Regions from separate parts of the Homo sapiens genome. Here region 2 is linked to region 1. The links come from fine-mapping of genetic effects on gene expression. A gene starts in region 1. The other region holds a variant in brackets. All regions are shown on one strand. Distances are between the middles of the regions. Region 1 holds the start of PLIN4 (perilipin 4). Region 2 holds the start of LRG1 (leucine rich alpha-2-glycoprotein 1).

Evidence for each region.
Region 2: its variant is fine-mapped to the expression of PLIN4 in whole blood (TOPMed, PIP above 0.99).

Annotation. Positions count from the first base shown.
Region 1 is chr19:4,514,783-4,523,102 of GRCh38, forward strand. PLIN4 (perilipin 4) reads right to left here and starts at 3,704. Exons shown (of 8, transcript NM_001367868.2): 1 at 3,603-3,704; 2 at 3,440-3,507; 3 at 2,772-2,916; 4 at 1,835-1,896. The coding sequence starts at 3,490. PLIN5 (perilipin 5) reads right to left here. Exons shown (of 8, transcript NM_001013706.3): 8 at 7,749-8,320.
Region 2 is chr19:4,535,687-4,544,006 of GRCh38, forward strand. It overlaps LRG1 (leucine rich alpha-2-glycoprotein 1), which reads right to left and starts at 4,350. Exons shown (of 2, transcript NM_052972.3): 1 at 4,296-4,350; 2 at 716-3,265. The coding sequence starts at 4,327. The coding sequence ends at 2,254. It overlaps SEMA6B (semaphorin 6B), which reads right to left. Exons shown (of 17, transcript NM_032108.4): 17 at 6,907-8,320. The coding sequence ends at 7,915. The variant C/A (reference allele first, on the strand shown) is at 3,742.

The sequences.
Region 1 (8,320 bases):
CATGCCTATAATCCCAGCACTATGGGTGGCTAAGGCAGGAGGATTGCTTGAGCCCACGAGTTTAAGAGCAGCCTGGGCAACGGTGAGACCCCATCTTTAAAAAAAAAAACAGGCCGGGCACGGTGGCTCACGCCTGTAATCCCAGCACTTTGGGAGGCCGAGGCAGGTGGATCACCTGAGGTCAAGAGTTCGAGACCAGCCTGACCAACATGGCGAAACCCTGTCTCTACTAAAAATACAAAAATTAGCCAGGCATGGTGGCAGGCACCTGTAATCCCAGCTACTCTGGAGGCTGAGGCAGGAGAATCGCTTGAACCCAGGAGGCAGAGATTGCAGTGAGCCGAGATCGTGCCATTGCCCTCCAGCCTGGGTGACAGAGCGAGACTGTCTCAAAAGATAAAAAAAAATTAAAAAACACAAAAATGAATGAAGATGATGATGGCCTAGGAGTTCTAACTCTCGGGTGTACCTGTGAGGTGCTACTTTTTTTGTTTGTTTGTTTTTTGAAACAGAGTCTCACTCTGTCACCCAGACTGGAGTGCAGTGGCGAGATCTCGGCTCACTGCAGTCTCCGCCTCCTGGGTTCAGTAATTTTTCTGCCTCAGCCTCCTGAGTAGCTGGTATTACAGGCGTGCACCACCATGCCCAGCTAATTTTTGTATTTTTAGTAGAGATGAGGTTTCACCATGTTGGCCAGGCTGGTCTCAAACTCCTGAGCTCAACTGATCTGCCTGCCTCAGCCTCCCAAAGTGTTGGGATTACAGGTGTGAACCACCGTGCCCGGCCAAGGTGCTATTTTAATTCAGTAGTTTTCAACTGGGTGATTCTGCCCCCAGGGGGCACTGGGTGATGTCTGGAGACATCTGTAGTTGTCACAACTTGGGGAGGCTCCTGGCATGGAGTAGGTGGAGACCAGGGATGCTGCTCGGCACCCTGCAGTGCCCAGGATGGCCCCACCCCAGAGAATGATCCAACCCCAAATATCCACAGTACTGAGGTTGAGAAGCCCGGAAATTGTATTCTCAGAACACATCTCCCAGCTTTGGCTCAGGTGGGCACCTTGGGCCCTGTAGTTGGAGAGACCCAGGTTCAAGTCCCAGCTTTTTACCCTCTCCTGCTCCCGACACTCGCTGTGTGGCCTTAGGCAAGCCACATGCCCTCTCTGAGCTAATATCCTCATCTGGAAAATGCTGATTAAAACAGATCCTCTTGCCAGGCGCAGTGGCTAATGCCTGTAATCCCAGCACTTTGGGAGGCTGAGGTGGGTGGATCACTTGAGGTCAGGAGTTGGAGACCAGCCTGGTGAAACCAACATGGTGAAACCCCGTATCTACTAAAAATACAAAAATTAGCTGGGCATGGCGGTGAGCACTTGTAGTCCCAGCTACTCAGGAGGTTGAGGCAGGAGAATCGCTTGAACCTGGGAGGCAGAGGTTGCAGTGAACTGAGATTGTGCCACTGCACTCCAGCCTGGGTGAAACAGCAAAACTGCATCTCAAAAAATAAAAGTAGAAGAAATAAAGTGCTTACGCTGCTGTCGCTTTGGTCTCATCTTGCCAGGCACAGCCCTGTGTAGACTGGAACCTTACGTGATTAGAGTGGGGTAGCACTGCACCCATTTCACAGATGTGGAAATAGAGGCTCAGAGGGGAAGCTCCGCCTGGGATCCCCAGGCTGTCTGCCTTCCCTCAGGCCCACAGCAGCCCCCCAGATAGCAGGAACTGAAATGTCCCAGGAGGGAGCAGCCCCCCAGATAGCAGGAACTGAAATGTCGCAGGAGGGGGCACCCCCAGGGCTCCTGCCACATCAGACCCTGCCCTGCACATCCTCTCACCTTTTCCGAAGGTTGCAGCTCCTTCTCCGTCCATGGGGCCGTCTGCTCTGGGTGGGCAGCCACTGTGGGGACAGGGGCCGGTCAGGGAGAGTGAGGGATGCAGTTAGAACCATCTACCCGGCTGCCCATTGCACAATAGCCAGGCACAGCCTAAAAGGTCAGGAATGTTTCAGCTACCCCGCCAGGGACAGCAGGAGGTGACATCCACGGCTACCAGCCAGACCTGGTCACCCCCCAACCCCGCTGGGGGCTCCCCCCAAGCCCAGGGCCGCTGTTCCCTGAAGTAGGGCTCTGTGGAACTTCCTCTGCTGGGTGGACACCCACCCTGAGTCCCGGGGTTCATATAGCCTGGCATGGGGGAACAGCCCCTTGCCCAGCCCGCCCCGCCCCCACCGCAGCTGCCTGCTGCCTATTGCCAGGCCAAGGCATGTGGAGCAGAAGTCAGCTGCCTGGGGCTCTGGGCCCAGAGGGAGGCCCAGCTCAGGCGGCTGCCCCAACCCTGGGTTCCCTGTCACCGTCCCTGATCGCCCAAGCTGAGCCACAGGAGGCTGGGGAGCCCCTGGGCTGTGTGACCCCAGGGGAGCTGTTGCTCCTCCCTGGGAGTCTGGATCTCACTCTGATGAGCTCAGATGGGCAGAGCACCCAGCCTGGGCCATGGTGCATCAGAAACGGAGTGCAGGGTGGGGGAACGGCCGAGGGACTGAGTGGGGGGGCATTGCAGGGAGACAGGCTGGGTTGAAAGCCACCTTCGGCCACTCACCCCCCATATTTATGCCTCAGTTTCCCCATCCACCACAAGATGTCCTAGTGTCTGATGAGAGCACACAGACAAATATGGAGGACTCCCCAAATGGCTGGAAGTCCCTGCCCGGGGAGCTCCTTCTCCCAGGTCCATGTGTAGAGTCCCCCCACGCCCCCAGCTGGGCCAGCCACTCACCCTGAGCCTGTGGTTGGGCAGCCTCGGCAGCAGGCGCTCCTGTGGGGTCAGCGGCCGGCCGGGCTCTCGCCGAGCTATGTGCGTTGGCCACCAGGTTCCGGGCAGAGCTGAAGCCAGGCAGGGACCCAAAGAAGCTGCCCAGGGTCTGCATGGGGGCGGGGGGTGTGCAGGATGAGCAGGCCAAGCCTCGGCAGGAACGGGTCAGAGGAAGCATCGATTGATCAGCCCAATGCCGCCCCGGCCCCTTGCTCCTGGGTGACCTCAGGAAAGTGTTTCAGCCACTCAGCCTCAATTTCCACACCTGGGCAATGGGCAGACTCAGCCTGCCTCCCATGCACAGAGGAAAAGATCGTCTACCCGATCTCCAAAGACCTTTTCCTTCCAGGATCCCCACTGCACAGATGGGGAAACTGAGGCTCAGAGAGGGGCGGAGCTGAGGCCGGCCCAAGGTCACTTGCTGGGGAAGGTGTCGAGGTCTGCGTGGGTCCCCCGCCTCCAGCTTGGGTCAGAAAGGAAGGGATTGGCATCATGGCTCCCAGACCGCCCCCACCAGCCCACCAGGGAAGCACCTCTCCAGATTCGAGACCCCAGGACTGTGGAGGTCACCTTCCCCGGCTCTGGGGCATCTCCAGGCCCCAGCAAGAATCTGCCCCATTTCCCCTCTTTACCTTGCCCTTCGGTTTGGGGGGATCCCGTCTCCCTTCGTCTGGAGCAGACATAGTGAGAACGTGAGAAGCTGGAAGGGGGCAGAGAAGGTGCGTGAATGGGGGTTCCCTAGCCTCCCATCCCACACCCACTCCCCACTGAAAGCCTGAGCAGCCCGACACCCACCTGCAGGCCTGGCCTCACCCTGGTGTCACCGAAGCAGACGCGGCCCCGCTCACCTGGACTGCGCGGGGTCCCCTGGAGGACGGACCGGCCCGGCTGGCAGCTGGCTCTACCCTCAGCTCCCTGGCCTTATAGGGTCCGGGGCAGGCGCAGGCCCAGCCAGCAGCGGCAGGCGGCCAATGGGCCCGGGGGAGGTGGCCTGGACGGTCACATGGCTACCTGCCCAGCCCAGCATGGGCCCAGGCCCAGCACCTTTCCCCTGTTTCCTGCCCACAGCTTGCATCAGGCTGAGTGGCTCACAGGCCAGATGGGCTCCCCTCCCGGGCCCCTGAGCCTCCAGTTCCATCCACGAGGTGGGTGTAGTTCAAATCTCTGCTGCACCAGGATGCCTTGGCCAGTTACCATCTTTTTGCTTCAGGTTTCTCTCTCGTACTCCGCACCACGTCCCGTAACATCCAGCTTCTTCTCTGCTCTCATCTCCCCCAGCTTCCTCCTTCGCTTGCTTCATCCCAGCCACACAGGCCTCCTCGCTATGCCTCCAGCGCACCTGGCACGGTCCTGCCTTAGGGCCTCTGCACGGGCTGTGCCCTCTGCCTGGAACACCTTCCCTGCAGGTTCCCACAGGGCACCCTCTTCCGCCCACAGAACAGTGCCTGGCATACATTTGGCGCTTAATACACGTTTGGCTCAATGGAGCAACACAGAGAGTGGTTGTGAGCCTCTGTGAGATGAGGTCATGCACTGAACAAATGCTGCCTTCGCGTTACCCAGGCAGAAGCGGGGTCTCGGGGTCTCGGCAAGGAGCAGGGGGTGTCCTCAGTGTGGAGGGGAGCCCATCACTCTCCGGAAGGGACTTGGGCCAAAACGCAGACCAAGATGGAGCACCAGCCAAGCTGGGGGCACCCTAGGAGTGGAAACCCAGCCTGGGGGGCTTGGGCCAACCCAGGGAGGCTCCCTGGAGGAGGCGTCCTGTTCCAGAAGTGGTGAGGATGGGATTCAAACCCAGACCCTCCTGTTCCAGGAAGTGGTGAGGACGGGATTCAAACCCAGACCCAGGACCTTCGTGCTGAGCCCAGCCTATGTGCTGGGCTGTCTGTGGGTGGGTGGGCAGAGGAATGGCCGTAACGCCCACCCTGGGCTGTGTCCCCCTCCTACCTGCCCCTGAGACAGGGTTCCTAGCCCTGTGTTATTGGGGGTGAGAGGGCAGACCCCATGGGTGGCTCTGGGCACTGGGCTGGGAGGAGGGAGGGTACAGCCACAGGATCTGATGATTCCCAGGCCGTCTGTCTCCTTGGAGCCGACACTGTGTTTGCCAAACAGTGGGGGAACAGAAGGGGGGGTGTCCCCCAACCTCTTCTACCAGCCAGTGCTTCCCAAGGGTGGCTGGGAGAGCTCTGGGTGCCCCTCCCCTTCCCAAAGGGCAGCCACAGCCCAGTGTGTGGAGAGAAAAAATTAAAAAGTGATCATAAACATCCCAGCCAGGATCTACCCCTCCTCTGCCCAGCACCCTCCATGGCTCCCACCTTCTCCGGGGTGGGAGCCCAGGGTCAAAGCCCAAGTCCCCTTCCTGCAGCCCGGTAGGCCCTGCATAACCTGCCTCGTCTGCTCCCCACCTTCCTCTCCTTCTTCTCTTCACTCTGCTCCAGCCACACGGGCCTTTTCACTGTTCCCATAACATGCCAGGACAGAGTCCCTCAAAGACACACGTGACTGTGCCTGCTTAGCCCCGCACACCCTTCCTCAGGGCTTTCGTGTGGGTTGTTGCTTTTGCCTCCAGCACCCTTTCCCACATCCCTCACCTCCTTCCAGGTCTTTCCTCAAATATCACTTCCTCAAAGAGGCATTCCTGGATCTCCTCTCCCTTTAAAAAATATATACCTCAGGCCAGGTGCCATGGCTCACCCTGTAACCCCAGCATTTAGGGAGACCGAGGCAGGAGGATTGGCTTGAGCACAGGAGTTTGAGACCAGCCTGGGCGACAGAGCGCCACCCCGCCTCAAAAGAACAAAAGAAAAAAAAAAAAAAATAAATAAAAAAAATATATTTTATATATATATATTTCTGTTGAGGCGGGGTCGCGCTCTGTCGCCCAGGCTGGAGTACAGTGGTGCGATCTCGGCTCACTGCAAGCTCTGCCTCCCGGGTTCATGCCATTCTCCTGCCTCAGCCTCCCGAGTAGCTGGGACTACAGGCACTCGCCACCACACCCAGCTAATTTTTTGTATTTTTAGTAGAGACAGGGTTTCACTGTGCTAGGCAGGATGGTCTCGATCTCCTGACCTCGTGATCCACCTGCCTCGGCCTCCCAAAGCGCTGGGGTTACAGGCATGAGCCACTGTGCCCGGCTGCCCAAAATATATCTTTAAATAAAAATTAAATGAATTAATGGGCCAGGCGCGGTGACTCATGCCTGTAATCCCAGCATCTTGGGAGGCCGAGGCAGGTGGATCACCTGAGGTCAGGGTTCGAGACCAGCCTGGCCAACATGGCAAAACCCTATCTCTACTAAAAATACAAAAATCAGCTGTGTGTGGTGGCGCACGCCTGTAATCCCAGCTACTCGGGAGGCTGAGGCAGGAGAATCACTTGAACCTGGGAGGTGGAGGTTGCAGTGAGCCAAGATCGCGCCACTGCACTCCAGCCTGGGTGACAGAGTGAGACTCCTTCCCCACCCCCCCAAAGAAAAGAAAAGAAAAGAAAAATCCCAGGGCTTAGCTCAACCCATTCTCTTTTCCTCACCTCTGCTGCAGTGAAACTGATTTCCCTACTGCTGTGCCTTTCCCTAAGCTGTTCCCTCTGCCAAAATGCCTACCCCTATGTGCTGTTCTGATCATCCTCAACAGGCCTGGCCCTGCCAGGAGCCCCCAGCCTCATGTGGGAAGAGAGAGCAAGGCTGCCTGTGGCTATAAAGTCAAGGTGGAAAGGGCAAGAAACCTTGAGAAGGTGGCCTGTGGAGGACCGGAGGAGGGAAGTATCCGGCTGGGATGGAGTCCTGGAAGCCTTCCTGGAGGAGGAGGCATTGAGGCTGGGCCTTGAGGATGTATGAGATGTGTCCGAGGGACGGATGGGGGGTGGGAAGAGTATTCCAAGGTGGCCGCACAGCCTCAGCAAAGGCCCGGAGGTGGGAATGTGCCCACTTCAATGGTAAGAGAGCAAAGTATCCAGGTCAGGCTGGAGGAGGAAGCTGGAAGGTGAAGAGTTTGGTCTGTGGGCAGTGGGGACCTGTGGGAGATTCCAGAACAGGAGCAGGGAGGTAGATTTGGCTGGTGGAAGTGGTCGGAGATCCCAGAGCTGCCCTCTGGACTATGTCCCAGGGAAGTCAGGGGCCACCCTGACCTCACCATACCAAGCTGTGGTTTCCCAACACCCCGCCCAGCCCCAGGGGAGTCGGAAGAGCAGCCAGGAATGCGGTCAGAGGACAGGAGGAAACCCCCGAGACCAGCCTATGGCCCTTGCCCTGCCTCTGTCTTCCCATCCTGGCCAGTGCAGCTGGAGAGACCACAGCAAGACCAGCTCCTGCAGGACCAGGAGGTAGAGAGAGAGCTGCCCCATCTGACTCCTTCCCCATCTTTTCTGCTCCCTGCAATTCCATGAAATTCACCTGTACCAAGATGAGAACAGCTTCCATGCGGCCAAAGGGGCAATGCTGTTGTTTATTTTTAGAGACAGGGTCTCACTCTGTTGCCCAGGCTGGAGTGGAGTGGTTACTGATCCAAGCTCACTGCAACCTCAACTTCCTAGGCTCAAGCGATCCTGCTGCCTCAGCCTCCCGAGTAGCTGGGGCACAGGCTCGTACCATGTGTCATTTTAAAATTTTTCGTAGAGACAAGGTCTCCTATGTTGCCCAGGCTGGTGTCAAAACTCCCGGGCTCATGAAATCCTCCCACCTCAGCCTCCCAAAGTGCTGGGATTACCGATATGAGCCATGGTGCCCGGCTAATTTTAAGTGGTAATGCTTACCCCACATGGGCTGGGCAGTAACGGTGGATCCCAGACAGGATGACAGGCAGGTCAGAGAAGCACCATTCTTCTAGATCTTGAACTCTGGCTCTACACACCCCCTTCTCCATGTCTCAGCAGTGACACACCTCCGTGGCCCCCAGCCCCCTGGGACTGAGACTCACCCTGGCTGGAACACACACGTGGGCCTTTCAACAACAAAAAGGACCTTTATTCTGGAGGCAAATCCCAAACAGCAAAGCAAGCGAGTATGGCAGGCTGAGCAGCACGGCCCATGGGCAGAGGAGGGCTCACTTTTCAAAGTTCCAAATAGGGCAAAATGTGTGTTTCCCTAGGAAGTATTTTTTAAAAACATTTTTGAGATAGAGTCTTGCTCTGTCACCCAGGCGAGAGCGCAGGGGCAAGATCATGGCTCACTGCAGCCTCCAACTCCTGGGCTCAAGCAGTCCTCCCACCTTGGCCTCCCAAAGTGCTGTGATAACAGGTGTCAACCACCACACCCAGTCAGGGCTCACTTTTCAAAGCCCCAAACAGAAGGCATTGGGCAAAATGTGTATTTCTTCGGGAGGCTGTTACTATTATTTTTTGTTAGATGGAGTCTCGCTCTGTCACCCAGGCTGGTGTGCAGTGGCGCGATCTCTGCTCACTGCAAGCTCCGCGCCTCTCGGGTTTAAGCAATTCTTCTGCGTCAGCCTCACAACTAGCTGGGACTACAGGTGCACACCACCACACCTGGCTTTTTTTTTTTTTTTCTTTCTTTC
Region 2 (8,320 bases), 21 kb after region 1:
AGTAGCTGGGACCACAGGCACACACCACCACCCCCAGCTAACTTTTTAAACTTTTTGTAGAGACGAGATGTCCCTGTGTTGACCAGGCTTGTCTTCAACCCCTGAGCCCCAAGTGATCCTTCCACCTCAGCCTTCCAAATTGCTGGGATTACAGGTGTGAGCCATTGCACCCAGCCTCTTTTTATTTCTTAATCTGCCCCTTAACTAAGCCAGAAGCCAGGCCTTCCCTTTCCCTAGGATCCCCATTTCACAGATGAGCAAGCTGAGGCTCAGAGATCATAAAACACTTGCCCCGCATACCACAGCAAGTGAGGGATCCTATTCCTTTTTTTTCTTTTTTTTTTTTTGAGACAGAGTCTGACTCTGTCGCCCAGGCTGGAGTGCAGTGGCGCGATCTTGACACACTGCAACCTCCGCCCCCTGGGTTCAAGTGATTCTCCTGCCTCGGCCTCCGGAGTAGCTGGGATTACAGGCGCCTGCCACCACACCTAGCTAATTTTTGTATTTTTAGTAGAGACGGGGTGTCACCATATTCGTCAGGCTGGTCTTGGACTCCTGACCTCGTGATTTGCCTGCCTTGGCCTCCCAAAGTACTAGGATTACAGGCATGAGCCACCGTGCCCGGCCAGGGATCCTATTCAAACCCAGCCCTGCTGGACCTCAGAACCCTGCCTTTTCATTGCCTTGCCTGGAATGACCACAGATGTAGGCATGGTCTTTTTATTTTTATTTTTATTTTTGAGACACAGTTTCACTCTGTCGCCCAGCCTGGAGTGCAGTGGCGTGATCTTGGCTCACTGCAACCTCCGCCTCCCAGGTTCAAGTGATTCTCCTGCCTGACCCTCCCAAGTAGCTGGTATTACAGGCACGTGCCACTGTGCCTGGCTAATTTTTGTATTTTTAGTAGAGACAGGGTTTTGCCATGTTGGCCAGTCTGGTCTCGAACTCCTGACCTCCGGTGATCTGCCTGCCTCAGCCTCCCAAAGTGTTTGGATTACAGGCATGAGCCACGGCGCCAGGCTGCATGGTCATTTTTTAGGGAGCTGGGAAAACTGGACATGCCCCCAAGCCCCAGGGTCTTCCAAATCCGATTGCAGCCCCCACATGGCCAATGCTGTATCAGCAGGTGGGCCCGGGACCCTGCTCATCCCTTCAGCCCCATCCTGCCCCTGCAACCTTGCCCGGGGGCAGGTGCCCCCTTCGATGATCTCAGGTCAGCATGACAAATCGTTTGGAGACCTGGGCAATCTGGTTTAACTTAAACCTTCTCCTAGGACACAAGCCCTGGCAGAAATCCACTGGTAAAATGACACCCGGGCAACAGTCAAGGTTTTATTTCCAGTTAGGTCCCAGGATGGGGGAAGGGAGAGGAGAAGTCACAGGCCATTGATCCCAACTGTCATCCCCTAGGGAGACCATATCCCACACCCCAGGGCCTGGGCCATGCCTCTTTTCCTCCTTCACCCTGGAGTCCTGGGAAGTTGATTTGAGAAGATGCTAGGAACACAATGAAAGCCAATTCATCCGATCCAGTTTTCAAGGGTTATTTATTAAACCCCTTGGTTCTGACCCCAAGCTAAGTGGGACTCAGCATCAGACCCTGCACTCAGAGAGCCCCCTGACTTGGGGAAGACAGAGTCAGAGAAAGGCAGCCCCAGTGTGGCCAGGGCTCAGCTGGAAGGAAGGACAAGGGGCTGGGAGAACCCAGAGTTCAAGAGATCTGGGAAACAGGGAACGGCATTCCAGACGGAGGGCACACCTTGGGCATGGGTAAGGAAAGCCCATCGTGTGTTCTAGGAAGCATGGATGGATGAAACGGGGTCCCAGCCGCTATGGACAGCCCCGAGTTTCACCTGTAAAAGGCAGGATTATTTGTTTTTAATTTTAATTTTAATTTTTTTGAGACAGTCTTGCTCTGTCGCCCAGGCTAGAGTGCAGTGGCACGATCTTGGCTCACCGCAAGCTCCGCCTCCCAAGTTCACGCCATTCTCCTGCCTCAGCCTCCCGAGTTGCTGGGACTACAGGTGCCCACCACCACGCCTGGCTAATTTTTTATATTTTTAGTAGAGACAGGGTTTCACCATGTTAGCCAAGATGGTCTCGATCTCCTGACCTCGTGATCCGCCCACCTGGGCCTCCCAAAGTGCTGGGATTACAGGCGTGAGCCCCCGCACCCGGCCAAAGGCAGGATTATTTGTTAAGCGGGTTGCAGTGTTCTACCAGACCCCCCACCCTCAACCCAAGCCCCTGGTCTCACTGGGACTTGGCCACTGCCAGGAGCGTCTGGCCCTTCACGGCTTCAGGCCCAGCACAGCGCGTGTCATTCTGGGAAAACATCTTGTCTTTTTGGGCCTGAAGCCAACGATAGAGGTCGCTCAGGTTCTGGTCACAGATCCAGGGGTTGCCGGAGATGTCGAAGCCATCCCGCATGTCCCAGTTTGGCTGCCCTAGGGATGCCCAGAGCCCCTCGGGCACGCTGGCCAGTGAGTTATTGGAGAGGTCCAGCATGTCCAGCTGCCGCAGGCCCTGGAAGGCACCGGCTGCCACCCTGGCCAGCTTGTTGCCGTTCAGGAAGAGGTAGCGCAGGTCCGGCTGCGGCAAGAGGAGATCTTTTCCCAGTACTTGCAATTTGTTGCCTTCTAGATGTAGCCGTTCTAATTGCAGCGGACCCCTCAGGAGGTCAGGTGGCAAGGTCTCCAACTGGTTCTCCCCAAGGTCAAGGGTGCGCAGGAGGGTGAAGTTGGCCAGCAGCCCGGGGGGCAGTTTCCGGAGGCGGTTCCCAGACAGGTCCAGATGCCCCAGAGCTTTCAGGCCGTGTAGCCACGAGACCTCCAGGACCTCCAGCTGGTTTTCTTTCAATACCAGGGTGTCCAGGGTGGCTGAGGCCTGGAAGAGGCCCGGGGGCAGCCCGGTCAGGGCGTTTCGGGTTAGATCCAGCACCCTCAGCTGCGGCACTGGCCGCAGGAATTCGGGCGAGAGGCTTTCCAGCCCATTGCTGGAGAGGTGCAATTCTTGGAGCTTAGAGGCGCCCTGGAGGAGGTTGGCTGGCAGGTGGGTCAGGTTGAAGAATTCCACGGCCAGGTGCACGGTGTCGGCTGGCAGGTAGCCGGGGATTTCGGCAGGTGGTTGACAGGAGATGGAGCTGCCATGGTCTGAGCGGAACACCTGGCAGTCTTTGGGGCTCAGGGTGACCCCCCAGGCTGAGGCTGCCAACAGCAGCAGCAGGAACAGAGTTCTAGAAACATGGGGTTGAATGCCCCCTGGGCTGCAGGCAGTAACAGAAGATGCTTACTAAACCACAGTGAAAATACACTCAGCTAGGTGAAAATACACCAGCAAATCCGCCCACTTCTTCCCATCTCTGCGGCTACCAGCCTGGACTATGCTACCTCATCTCTCACCTGTACTAGGGCAGTTGCTTCCTCCTCCTCTTCCAGCTTCTACCCTCACCCCCGACAGCTGCCAGAAGTGGCCCCTGTTCCAGGGAGAATTATAATTCTAGGAAAGTTGAGTTTCTGAGTGTAACTCCCGCATAATATGAATACACTTCCCCATCACCAGCCTAGCCCCCATGAGCTGTTAATTATTCACAGTCCAACTTGCTAGTTTCTTCTGATCTGGCTTATTTTCTGGGTCAGTCCTTGTCTCCCTGGCTCTGTGTTTTGATGTGAACTCCTATTCATCCTTCAAAGCCCCAGCTCCAATGCCCTCTTTTCCATGAAGACTTCTCTGCTCTGGGAT[C/A]CTGGTCTTTTTGTCCACTCTTGACCAATTGGGTGCTTGGAGGAAGACAGACGTTCAGGTTCATGTTTTTGAGACAGAGTCTTGCTCAGTTGCCCAGGCTGGAGGGAACTGGCATGATCACAGCTCACTGCAGCCTCTGAACATGAAAAGTGTGTCCTGCTTTGGCCAGGTCTGAGGGTGGGCATTTGGCCTTGGGAAGCGGTGGTTTACACTTAGCACCACAACCCTTGGAAGCCTGGGGCTTCCCCTCCTCCTCCAGGGCTTCCCTGGCCCGGCAGCCATCAGACATGATCTCGACAGCCTTGGTCACTGTGGCCCCAGGCCTCTAACAAGAAGCCTCCCCCGGCTCCCTGCTGCCCATGCCCACCTGGGCTTCTGTAGGGGTGTGTGTGTGTGTGCACGCGCCAGTCTTTCTGTCACAGATAAGGTTGATCTGTGCCAGCCACCAGGCCTGTATCTGCTCCCTGTGACTTCTATGGGTTAGCTGGAATGTCCTGTATCTCCGCATGGTCTGGCGTTCAAACCTGCCTAGGACAGGTAGTGTGGGGACCTACCTTTTTGGTCGCTGTCTGCTCCAAGAGGACATGGTAGCTCTGCTCTTTTGCTTCTGGGTTGTCCTGGCCTGCGGAGGTGGCCTTATACCTGCCTGGACTGGGGGCAGGGGAACCAACCCTGGGGAAGTCCCCACCCCCGTCCAGTTCCTGATAGGGGCTGAGCCTAAGCCAGGCAGGGGAAGGGGAGGGGTCAGGATTACAAAATTGCTTCCTGGAAATTGTTTCCTGTTCAACCCCTTTTTGACCCTGCTTCTAGAACACAGGTTTTTCTTTCCTTGCTTCCTGATTTTTGGGGGGCATCCAAGAGTCTCTCTAGTTGCATCCTCACTTCCCCCAACCCGGAGTTCAAGGGTCAAGGTTTGCAAGGCACTATTCCTGGAGACAGGGACAGCTCTCTGAGCAAGAGGAGGGATTTACCATAAACTTGAGCAACCCAGAAGCTCACTGAAAAGAACAAAAAAACTCGTCTTGATTTCATGGTATGTTGATATTGCTTTTTTTAAAAGAAGTCATTTTAAAAATACAGTCCAATAGTGAGTAATGCCAAACGTCTCTACGGTCCTTAGACAGTGGCTTGGGAGGAACCAAACCTGGTTCTGAATTCCAGCTCTGTCATGAACACCTTTGCTTTGTGACCTTTGGCAAGTGACTTAACTTTTCTTGGCCTCAGTTTCCCCATCTATGAAGCTGAACTCAAATCTCCAAGGGCTCCTTCTGCCCTTTTTTCTCTTCATCTGAATCTGACATCCATGCTATTGTTTCCATTCTTCCTCATTTCCTATTAAATGCGTTTGGAGGCTACAAATTTCCCTTTGAGAACAGCTTTGGCTGCATCTCATGGACTTGGCTGCAGAGTGCTTGCATTCTTGTTGAGTTCTAAATATTTAGGTATGATGGTGTCACCTTTATCTGCAGCTATGACTATTTTTTTTTTCTTTTTTTTTTTGAGACAGAGTCTTGCACTGTTGCCTAGGCTGGAGTGCAGTGGCGTGATCTCCACTCACTGCAAGCTCCGCCTCCCGGGTTCACGCCATTCTCCCACCTCAGCCTCCCGAGTAGCTGGGACTACAGGCATGCACCAGCGTGCCTGGTTAATTTTTATATTTTTAATAGAGACAGGATTTTGCCATGTGGCCCAGGCTGGTCTTGAACTCCTGAGCTCATGTGATCCACTGGCCTCGGCCTCCTAAACTGCTAAAATTACAGGTGTGAGCCACCATGCCCCGTCATTTTTTTTTTTTTTTGAGACAGCATTTTGCTCTGTTACCCAGCTTGGAGCAGTGTGGTGCAATCATAGCTAACTGTAGCTTTGACCATGGGTCCAAGGCCTCCCAAGTAGCTGGGACTACGGGCACGTGCCACCATGCCTGGCTAATTTTTTTTGAGATGGAGTCTCCCTCTGCCACCCATGCTGGAGTGCAGTGATGCAATTTCGGCTCACTGCAAGCTCCACCTCCTGGGTTCAAACGATTCTCCTGCCTCAGCCTCCCGAGTAGCTGGGAATACAGGCACATGCTACCATGCCTGGCTAATTTAAAAAATTCTTTTGTATGTTACCTAGGCTGGTCTCAAACTCCTGGGCTCAAGGAATCTTCTCAGTCTCTCAAAGTGCTGGGGTTATAGACGTGAGCCACTGCACTCCGTCAGTCTTGTGCCCTGCCCAGTCTCCGGAGCCCAGCCGTTAGTTGGTCTTAATCAACATGGACTGAGAGGAAGGAAGGCTTGTGAAATGTAGTGACACAGTAACAAAACGATCCATTAAAATGAAATGAGATCACATCCCTGCTTAAAACTCTCTGATGGCTTCTTGTCCCACTTAAAACAAAATTCATAAGGCTGGCCAGGCGCAGTGGCTCACGCCTGTAATCCCAGCATTTTGGGAGGCCGAGGCAAGCGGATCACCTGAGTTCAGGAGTTCGAGACCAGCCTGACCAATATGATGAAACCCCGTCTGTACTAAAAATACAAAAATTAGCGGGGCGTGGTGGCGGGTGCCTGTAGTCCCAGCTACTGGAGAGGCTGAGACAGGAGAATTGCTTGCACCCAGGAGGCATAGGTTGCAGTGAGCCGAGATCGCGCCACTATACTCCAGCCTGGGTGACAAAGTGAGACTCTGTCTCAAAAAAAGAAAAAGAAAAAGAAAAAGAAACTGGCTCCTATGCAGATGAAGATGGGGACCCCGAAGTCTCCATGTTTCCACACTCAGCTCCCCAGATTTGTTTTGACCCAGCCTTTTTTTTTTTTTTTTTTTTGAGACAGCGTCTCGCTCTGTCACCCAGGCTGTAGTGCAGTGGTGTGATCTCAGCTCACTGCAACCTCTGACTCTCAGATTCAAGCTATTCTTCTGCCTCAGTCGGCCGAGTAGCTGGAATTACAGGAACCCGCCACCAAGCCTGGCTGATTTTTTGTATTTTTAGTAGAGACGGGGTTTTGCCATGTTGGCCAGGCTAGTCTCGAACTCTTGACCTCAAGTGATCTGCACACCTCGGCCTCCCAAAGTGCCGGGATTACAGGCGTGAGCCACCGCGCCCGGCCTGGCCTTGACTTTTGAGGGTGCCCCCACCCGTGCCACCCCCAGGAGGCAGAGCAGAGCCAGAGTCATGGGGGCCGGTGGTTGTAAACAGAGTTTTATTGATGGGGAGGGGGCTGGGGGAGGCAAACTCCAGAGAGGGCAGAGGACCCAGCCAGCCACGTGGCATGCATGGTCAGCTGGAGGTCAGAGGGGGGAGGTCACAAGGGGACGGGTGGCATGGGACTCTCTCACCACCCTGGGGCCGTATTTACAGAGGGGCCCCACCCACCTTCGCCGCCCCCCAGGCCCCCAAGCCCTTTAGACAGCTGCTGCCGATGTGACTTCCGGGCAGGCCCTCCTCGTGTCTCCTGCCTGAAACCCCGGCATTGTCCCCGCTTCCCTCTGCAGAGTGGGGGGGGTTCAAACTCCTAACCGGCACCTCGGAGACCCCCGGGCCTTCTGGAAGCCCCAGCGTCGGCTCAGCCAACGCCCAGGCCGCTGGGGCCACCACGATCGTCGCTCGTGGACACACACCCTGCACGCGTGGCCCACTTGACACACACGCCCACAGCAGCCTTCGCTGGCACGCACACACACGCCCACCTCCCCGGCCCCTTGCACACGAACACGGCACGCACACGCACGCACACCCACACACGCCAGGGGCCTGGGTTGGGGAGGGACCTTTCCAGGGGTGGGGGAGGGCTTAGGTCTGCAGCTGTGGCCCCCCATTCCCCACCGGCGTCCAAGCCTCCCCTGCCTGCCGCCACCCCGAGAACGGAGTTGTGCAATTGGTTAGAAAACCGCAAAAGAAACCAAAACTGCAAAAAAAACCAAAACCTACGCGCATAAGGTCAACCTCAAATCCATAGCAAAGTCCTCCCGCCCACCCACCCCCAAACCGTCTCAGCGTCCTGCGGCCCCGGGTAGGGGGAGGGCGAGCTGGTTGTGCTTCCTTGTGGCGGAGGGGGCCCCCCACTCCGCGGGTGGGTCGCGGGGGGGACTTGAGCACCCACTCGGAGTTGCCCCGGGCCCCGGCGTTCTGGCACCGTCTCTCGCTCCTGGTTCCCGTGGCTGGCACTGCCAAGGCATCGGGGGGCCCCCGGCCTAGGGCACGGGGGGCGCAGTCCTGTCCGCCCCCCCATAGGGGAGGAGGTGGGCCAAGTCTGTGCCCGGCCGGGCGTGGCAGCCGCGGTGGCGGTCCCCAGGCCGGGCCTCGCCGCTGTTGAACGTGTGGGTGCGGCGCAGGGTGGCGGCCGGAGGGGCGTGGGGGCCCAGTGGCCTCCTCAGGCTGCCCGTCGGGGGCGGGCTCCAGGGCCGCGGGAGGCCATCGGCGGCTGAGGCTGGGTCCAAGGGGCCCGTGGGCGCGGACACCACCCGCCGGCGGTCCGGGCTGGCGTGGGGGGTGAGCGGGAAGTCGCCGTGGGAGGCGCGGCCGGGCCGGGCAGCATAGAGGCGGCCGTCGGGGGTCGGCTCCCCAGGCGCGGGGGGCTGCTCGGGGGCCCGGGCGGGC